Homo sapiens: one gene and its partner. The protein of the gene in region 2 purifies or fractionates together with the protein of the main gene of each other region. This does not show direct contact. Each region holds a gene or a part of one and is shown on either strand. Other genes may lie near its edges.

Region 1 (3,837 bases), on a different chromosome or scaffold from region 2:
TTATGACTGAGACAGTCAAAGAGATCTAATCTAACCGACTCCATCTTGGTTCTAACCTTTAAGCTGTCATTGTTCGTTCCTGGGTGTAGGCTGAACTAACTTTGGGAGAACTTAGTTTATAGTTTATAGTCTAAAACAAAGACAATAAAAGCCATTTCCCAAACAAACCCCCTTCTTGCCTGGAGACTAGATTGCCTTTGTAGGACTAACAAATTAGCCAAAAGATTAGAAATTATCATTTAGGAGTCATGCAGCTGAAGGCTACAAGATTCTGACCACCACTAAACTGCTCCTAATATCACTGCTTGAGATATTTTGCAGACCCTGCACTTGATGGATCAGCTGGCAACACCCAGATCGATAAATTGGCTCATCTGATCTTGTGGCTCCCACCCAGGAAGTGACTCAGCACAAGAAGACAGCTTTGATTCCCTATGATATCATCTCTGACCTGACCAATCAGCACTCCTGGCTCACTGGCTTCCTCCCACCCACTAAATTGTTCTTAAAAACTCGGATCCGTGAATGCTTGGCGAGACTGATTTGAGTAAAATAAAACTCTGGTCACGTGCACACTCGGCTCTGCGTGAATTACTCTTTCTCTACTGCAATTCCCCTATCTTGATAAATCAGCTCTGTCTAGGCAGTGGGCAAGGTGAACCCTTTGGGCGGTTACAAATATAAGGACACTTCCAGGAACAGTCTGTTACTACACAGGTGTGTATTCCCTCTTTTTTTTTTTGAGACGGAGCCTCGCTTTGCCGCCCAGACTGGAGTGCAGTGGCATGATCTCGGCTCACTGCAACCTCCACCTCCCTGGTTCAAGCAATTCCCCTGCCTCAACCTCCCAAGTAGCTGGGATTACAGGCGCACACCACCACGTCTCGCTAACTTGTTTGTATTTTTAGTAGAGGTGGGGTTTCACCATGTTGGCCAGACTAGTCTCGAACTCCTGACCTCAGGCAATCCGCCTGCTTCAGCCTCCCAAAGTGTTGGGATTACAGGTGAGAGCCACCACGCCCCACCAGGAGTGTATTCTTACACCAATATTCTGCTATACTCTTAGATGAAGAAGGGACAACCCTAGTCAGCTAATAAACTGGCACCCTTCCAAACCTCTACTTAGTATTAGTTGTTTAATCTTTATCTGAAGAAGCTTAGTAGTAATTCACCTCTTTGAGGTTCAACCCCATTCAGAATGGCACAGTAGTTAACTAACATTAACTGAATCCACCCTCCTTAAAATGACAGTTTGATAATCATCTTTTGTTATTCAAAATTATGTGTCTTAGCTCACCTCCCAAAAGGATTAATAAAGTACGGTATTCTTTCCAACCACATTCTAATCTCTTTCTGAGAGGAGTTCTGGTAAGTGCAACTTTCTCCATCTCTTTACATTTATGAGTCTGAAGTTTCCACATGTCTGGGAATTTCGGGACTGGCCCCGCCGCCCCACCACCCCACCATAGTCTGGTTGCTCAGATAGTTAACTGCTCAACTACTTACTCCAAGTTTATCATAAGTCCCTTTGAAAGAAAAAGCTAGGAAATAAAAGACGGGAATTTTATTGCGTATATACCTCAAGCCTCAAAGCAAAGAAGGCTGTAACTGAATTTTAAGACAAAATATAGCTATTTCTTCTTTTTCCAGTTAAAAAGCAATTAATAGGACAAATACAAATATCTATGAATATAGAACTATTTAAGCAATATTTAAAAACTAAAATATCCAAACAATTACAAATAGCCCACTTATTAGCATGTAAGCAGAACTGACCTGTTCATATGAAATCTAGCTACTGCTATTAATAAAACAGTGTAGCATAATAAATGAATTTCAATTACAATGAAAATGTGGTGTTACAGACTATGAAATTTTTGCATATTAAAACAACTTTTTTGGTTGGGCACAGTGACTCACACCTGTAATCCCAATACTTTGGGAGGCTGAGGCAGGTAGATTACTTGAGATTAGGAGTTCGAGACCAGCCTGGCCAACATAGTGAAAGCCCGTCTCTACTGAAAATACAAAAATTAGCCGGGCATGGTGGTGTGTGCCTGTAATCCCAGCTACTCGGGAGGCTGAGGCAGGAGAATCGCTTGAACCCAGGAGATGGAGGTTGCAGTGAGCCGAGATCATGCTACTGCACTCCAGCCTAGGCAATAGAGTGAGACACCATCTCAAACTAACAAGCAAACAAAAAACACTTATTTTCTCCTAAATAACAACAAAGAACCAAAAAAACAAAACAAACCCTTGCATCTTTCTGAAACTATTAGGACCACGGACACTTCTACCTCAGCCCATATCTATCAGCTCACATCCTGGAATCTCTCAAAATCCTCCTCTAGGTTTTCTTGGGGTTTCATTTTTGTTTTTGTTTTTCTTGTGGAGAAGGGTTTTCTCTATGTTGCCCAGGCTGGTCTCAAACTCCTGAACTCAAGCGATCCTCCCACACTGGCCTCCCAAAGTGTTGGGATTAAAGGTGTAAGCCAAGGAGCCTGGCTCTCCTCTAGTTTTTAAATTAACCTTTTGACAAAATGAAGCTTACCTACTGGCTCTCCATCACTTTCTGGATTCTCTTCTTTAGTGAAGACTTCAGCCTGTGGTTCCAGCTGAGGAAGTGGTTTCAGTACATCAACATTCATCGGGCCATTTCGTAATCGTTGTTTCAGTAGAGAAACCTAATATAAATGTGCTTCATTAGAAAAAAGTCAAAAAAAACTATGGGAGTAGTACAATTGTCCCTTGGTATCTGTGGGGGATTGGTTCCAGGATTCCCTGTTAATACCAAAATCCGCAGGAGCTCAAGTCCATTATATAAAATGGTGTAGTATTTGCATATAGCCTACACACATCCTCCAGTATAATTTAAATCATCCCTAGATTACATAAACTACCTAAATAATGAAAATGCTATGCAAGTAGTTGTTGTACTACATATATTTTAGAAAATAATGAGAAGAAAAAAAGTCTACATGTTCACTACACATGGTTTTCACCCCCTAAATATTTCTGATCCAGTTGGTTGAATCCACACATACAAAAACACATCAATGTGGATGGCTTATTGTACTTTATTTAAAACAGAGAGAGGACGGATTAAATGATATTCTTCTTACTAAAGTGGGGGAAAATAATCAAAATAAAAAGTTTACTCCCAATACAGCTGGTTTTTATATTTGCTATTATTATTATGCAGTTAGTCAAAAGATACAATAAATAAAAAAGTATCCTTAACATTAACTGAAGAGCTAGGAGTGGTGGCTCATGCCTATAATCCCAACACTTTGGGAGGCCAAGGCGGAAGGATCGCTTGAGCCCAGGGGTTTGAGACCAGCCTGGGCGACATAGTGAGACCCCATCTCTACAAAAAATTTAAAAATTAGCTGGGCGTGGTGGCATATGCCTGTATTCCCAGCCACTCTGGAGGCAGAGGCTGGAGGATTGCTAGAGCCCAGGAATTTGAGATTGCAGTTAAGCTATGATCACGCCACTGCACTATAGCCAGGGTGAAAGAGCAAGACTCTGTCTCAAAAAAAATTAAAAATAAAAAAAATTGAGGAAAGCAAAAAGTTTTAAAAATAGGTCTTAAAAAAGAAAAAACTTTTGCAACCTTGCAGATATCCAAATCAAACCCCCTCTATTTTTCTTTATCCAAAAAATTCCACACTTTTTCTTTTACTCTTTTACCTGAGTTTGGAGAACACTGATATACTGATCTTTCTCCTCTAAAGATGCATCAAACTCCTCTTGCAGATGTTTCTTTGCCTGCTGGTCCATTTGGAGCTCCTAAAACATAAAATGATTTACAGGTAATTTTCAGTATAAAACAAA
Region 2 (4,175 bases):
TAGAGTTGTACCAACTGGGCTTGAGTTGCCTCTATCTTATCCTACCAGTTATGGAAAACTTTCGTAGGTTACTTATCTTCTCTGAGTTTTTGACTTTATCTTAAGAATACTTTTTGATCAAGATGAAATGTGTAGTATAATTCTCAAAATATTGAGGATGTTTCATAATGGTACCTATTATTAGTATGAATAGGACCCTAAGAAAGAAGGTTACTGGAATATATATTAAGTGATTTCCAGTTTATCATGCCCAAATAGGCTTTCTTAGGCCACCACTACTCTTGGAAATGCAGTGATCGGCGGGGCGTGGTGGCTTAAGCCTGTAATCCCACCCAGCACTTTGGCAGGCTGAGGTGGGCGGATCACCTGAGGTCAGGAGTTTGAGACTAGCCTGCCCAACATGGTGAAACCTCATCTCTACTAAAAATACAAAAAATTAGCCAGGCATGGTGGCGAGTGCCTATAATCCCAGCTACTCAGGAGGCTGAGACAGGAGAATCGGTTGAACCCGGGAGGCAGAGGTTGCAGTGAGCCGAGATCGCGCCATTGCACTCCAGCCTGGGTGACAAGAGCGAAACTCCATCTCAAAAAAAAAAAAAAAAACAAGAAATGCAGTGATATACTTATGACCAGGAAACAAAAATGTATCCTCTGTTTGAAAGAGTTGTCTTTGAATGCATAGAAATAATAGGAAATGCATAAGAAGGAAGTAGGAAGGTTTTGGGAGACTACACTCAGCTGATATTAGAGTAATGTTTTGGTTACTGTTTTGACAGTAGAATTAGAAACCACTTTTCATGGGCTTTGCATTTAAGAACTTTGTAGAATTTCTTAAATCTTATAATTTGCCTCTGTCCCCTTTGCCATTATTAAACATTTAGTGCTCTTTCTTGTTCATTATTACTTCTCACTTATCTATGACTTCCTTTTACTTCTTATTTTTGCCAAGAATCTCTTGGATGAGATATCTTATCACCATCAAGCATCTTGTCCTCAGTTTTGAAGCTTGTTTTTATTGGTTTACCAAAGTTTATTTGGCTTTGGCAATATGGATCATAATTATGTTCAAAAGAAACTGATGCCAGGTGTGGTGGCTCACGAACCTGTAAGCCCAACACTTTGGGAGGCCAAGGTGGGCAGATTCTGTGAGGCCAGGAGTTCGAGACCAGCCTGGGCAACATAGTGAAACCCTGTTTCTACCAAAAATACAAAAAATTAGCCCAGCATGGTGGCGCACACTTGCGGTCCCAGGTACTCAGGAGGCTGAGGTGAGAGGGTCGCTTGAGCCGGGGAGGTCTAGGCTGCTGTGAGCTGTGGTCGCATCACTGCACCTCAGCCTGGGCTACAGGAAAACCCTGTCTCAAAAAAATAAAAATAAACTAAAAAAGGAAAAGATATCATAAATTAGAATGTCATTTTTTTCATTTATGAGAGCAAGGTATATGTGACATTTCAATGACCAGTGTTGCTTGTATCTATTATTTCTCTACTTTAACTCCCTAAGTAATGACAATAAAAAAAAGACTGGGGTCTAATTCTTATAACTTGTTTTATTGTTACTTTTCTGTTTTGTTTTGTTTTGTTTTTGAGACAGGTCTCTCTGTCACCCAGTCTGGAGTGCAGTGGGTGCTCCACTGCAGCCTTGACCCCCCAAGCTCAAATGCTCCTCCCACGTCAGCCTCCCAAGTAGCTGGGACTACAGATGCAAACCACCACACCTGGCCAATTTTTGTATTTTTTTTGTAGAGATGGGGCTTTGCCATGTAGCCCAGGCTGGTCTCAAACTCCTGGACACAAGCAATCCACCTGCCTTGGCCTCTCAAAAGTGCTGGGATTACAAGCATAAGCCACTGCACCTGGGCTATTGTTAGTTTTCTAAAGCCTGTTTCTATCTAATAAAAAAGAATTCTATTAAAAAAAACAATAAAAAGGAATTAGATTTAGAATTTTTTTTACTTGTACAATCCATTATTTTTAGGCGACTTAAGTCTTTCCATCTCAGAAGTAACCTCAAAGCTCTGAAGCACAAAAGACAAATTAAAAACTATGCATCTATATTTTTTCCTTTTTTGACACCAGAATATTTGGTTTAGTATTACAAAGAGTATATGATTTTCTGGTTTTTTTCCCCCTAGGTAGTTGTCAGTGTTAAGTTTAGTCAGAGTATTGAGACTGTTAGGGTATAGATAGCAGGCAACGGTGGAAGATGGAGGCCATCTTGAAAAATGAAGAAAAGAGGTGACCTTTGAAGCCAGAGGCAGTAACAGAGGTATAATTATATGTAATAACAGATATATAAACACTTTCCCATGTTTCCTGTGCATAGTATATAAGAGTAGTACATAACTAGCAGTCTGGAACAATATAACTCCTTACTAGCTCCTGAATCTATCCAACACAGTGCCAAAAATTACTTGTATATATTATTTGATGACATATTTTACTACCTTATTTGTAAGTTTTTTTTCATGTTTATCTTAAGCTGCTGATTCTATAAACTTGTTAAAGTAATCTTTGATGCTTTGTTTTACTTAATAATTTTGTTCCAGGATACTTTAGAATTCATAGTGCAAAAAAATCATAGTTCCTTAATGGAACCAAAAGTTATTATTTTCAGCACCACTAAAGAAACATAACCACAAGGGCAAGATGAGATTGTTTATTTGAATAATTAATGTGCTTCTGGTTGTACTGTTTATATTTTTTTCTTACTGATAAGTATTCATATACTCATGATTGTGAAAAATCAGTTTAAAATGGGGAAATACTTTAAGCCCATAATTGTTATAGCTAAGGTTATTTATTGCTAATATGGCTTTCTAAGAATATTAATACTTCTACCTCTAGAGATTGTTAATATTATAGATACAATAGATACAATTTTGACTGACTTTAGGGTTTTAAGTCTGTAAACATACTTGAGAAATTTGTATTTCTCTAAATTTCATTAGCTTTCTAGAGTATAATTATAGATTTATTTGAGTATGTTATAGTTTTGCAAGTCGGCCGTTTTTAAATACAATAATGGGTATGTTTTTTTTTAAGTGATTTGTATTTTATATACAGTTGGTTTTTGTCAGTAATGTGCTCTGAGTATAAAAAAGTAATATATTGTAGGTGTAAGATGTGTTATTTAGTTTAATTTATAATTTGAGCACAAAGAGCTAATATTTGTCTAGTTCTGTGATCTATCATAACTTCCGGTGTATTTCTGTTATTCATGTTGGTCATATTTTTTCATTTGAGTCACTATTTCCTATAATAAATAGTTCTTTTACAGTCTCAATTTTCATTGCCAAAAGATATAATTAATATTTAATGTTCTTCACACTCTAAAATTCTTTGATTTTTATCCCAGGTAAATTTCTTCTTTTAACTTTTAGAAGAAGCTGTGTCTTTGTATATGGTGATAATCGCAATATAAAAAATTGGTAACTCTACACTCCTTGACTTGTGGAGAATTATAATTCAGGTCAACAGTGTGCCAATATGTAACTTCAAATTGGAGATGAATTAAATATAGTTTCTCTCTTCAAGGAATTTAAAATATAATAAACAGTTGCTGTAGCCCAGGAGTTTGAGGCTGCAGTGAACTATGAGTGCACCACTGCACTCCAGTCTGGGTGACGAGATGAGACCCAGTATTTTTTTTTTTTTTTTTTTTTTTTTTTGAGACAGAGTCTCACTCACTCTGTCACCCAGGCTGGAGTGCAGTGGTGCAATCTCGACTCCCTGCAACCTCTGCTCCCGGGTTCAAGCAATTCTCCTGCCTCAGCCTCCCGAGTAGCTAAGATTATAGGTGTGCGCCACCACACCCTGCTTATTTTTGTATTTTTGTAGAGACAGGGTTTCACCATGTTGGCCAGGCTGGTCTTGAACTCCTGACCTCAAGTGTCTGCCTGCTTCAGCCTCCCAGAGTGCTGGGATTACAGGCGTGAGCCACTGCGCCTGGCCAGGACCCCATCTTTAAAAGAAGAAAAGTGTAGTACATAATAGTTTAGTAAATAATATTTCAGAGCTGTTGCCCTTATAATAGTTTCTGTTCTACCAAATTTTTCTCTTTTGTACCCTAGGGCTTTAACTTATTTAGTTCTCCCTTAATCTACTCCTGATATTTAGATCTAAAGTTGAAAATCTAGTCATAAGCCTACCTTTAATGTGTATTTATTTATATT

The links. The genes of interacting proteins can lie anywhere in the genome.
Region 1: the proteins of LIN54 (region 2) and GOLGA4 purify together in Homo sapiens (co-immunoprecipitation; one large-scale study listed by IntAct). This does not show direct contact.

What each region holds. Positions count from the first base shown.
Region 1 is NC_000003.12:37,294,934-37,298,770, reverse strand, and holds part of GOLGA4 (golgin subfamily A member 4), read right to left. Parts: intron 3,793-3,837; coding exon 3,694-3,792; intron 2,685-3,693; coding exon 2,552-2,684; intron 1-2,551. UniProt on the Homo sapiens protein: Involved in vesicular trafficking at the Golgi apparatus level. May play a role in delivery of transport vesicles containing GPI-linked proteins from the trans-Golgi network through its interaction with MACF1. Involved in endosome-to-Golgi trafficking.
Region 2 is NC_000004.12:82,979,436-82,983,610, reverse strand, and holds part of LIN54 (protein lin-54 homolog), read left to right. Parts: intron 1-4,175. UniProt on the Homo sapiens protein: Component of the DREAM complex, a multiprotein complex that can both act as a transcription activator or repressor depending on the context. In G0 phase, the complex binds to more than 800 promoters and is required for repression of E2F target genes.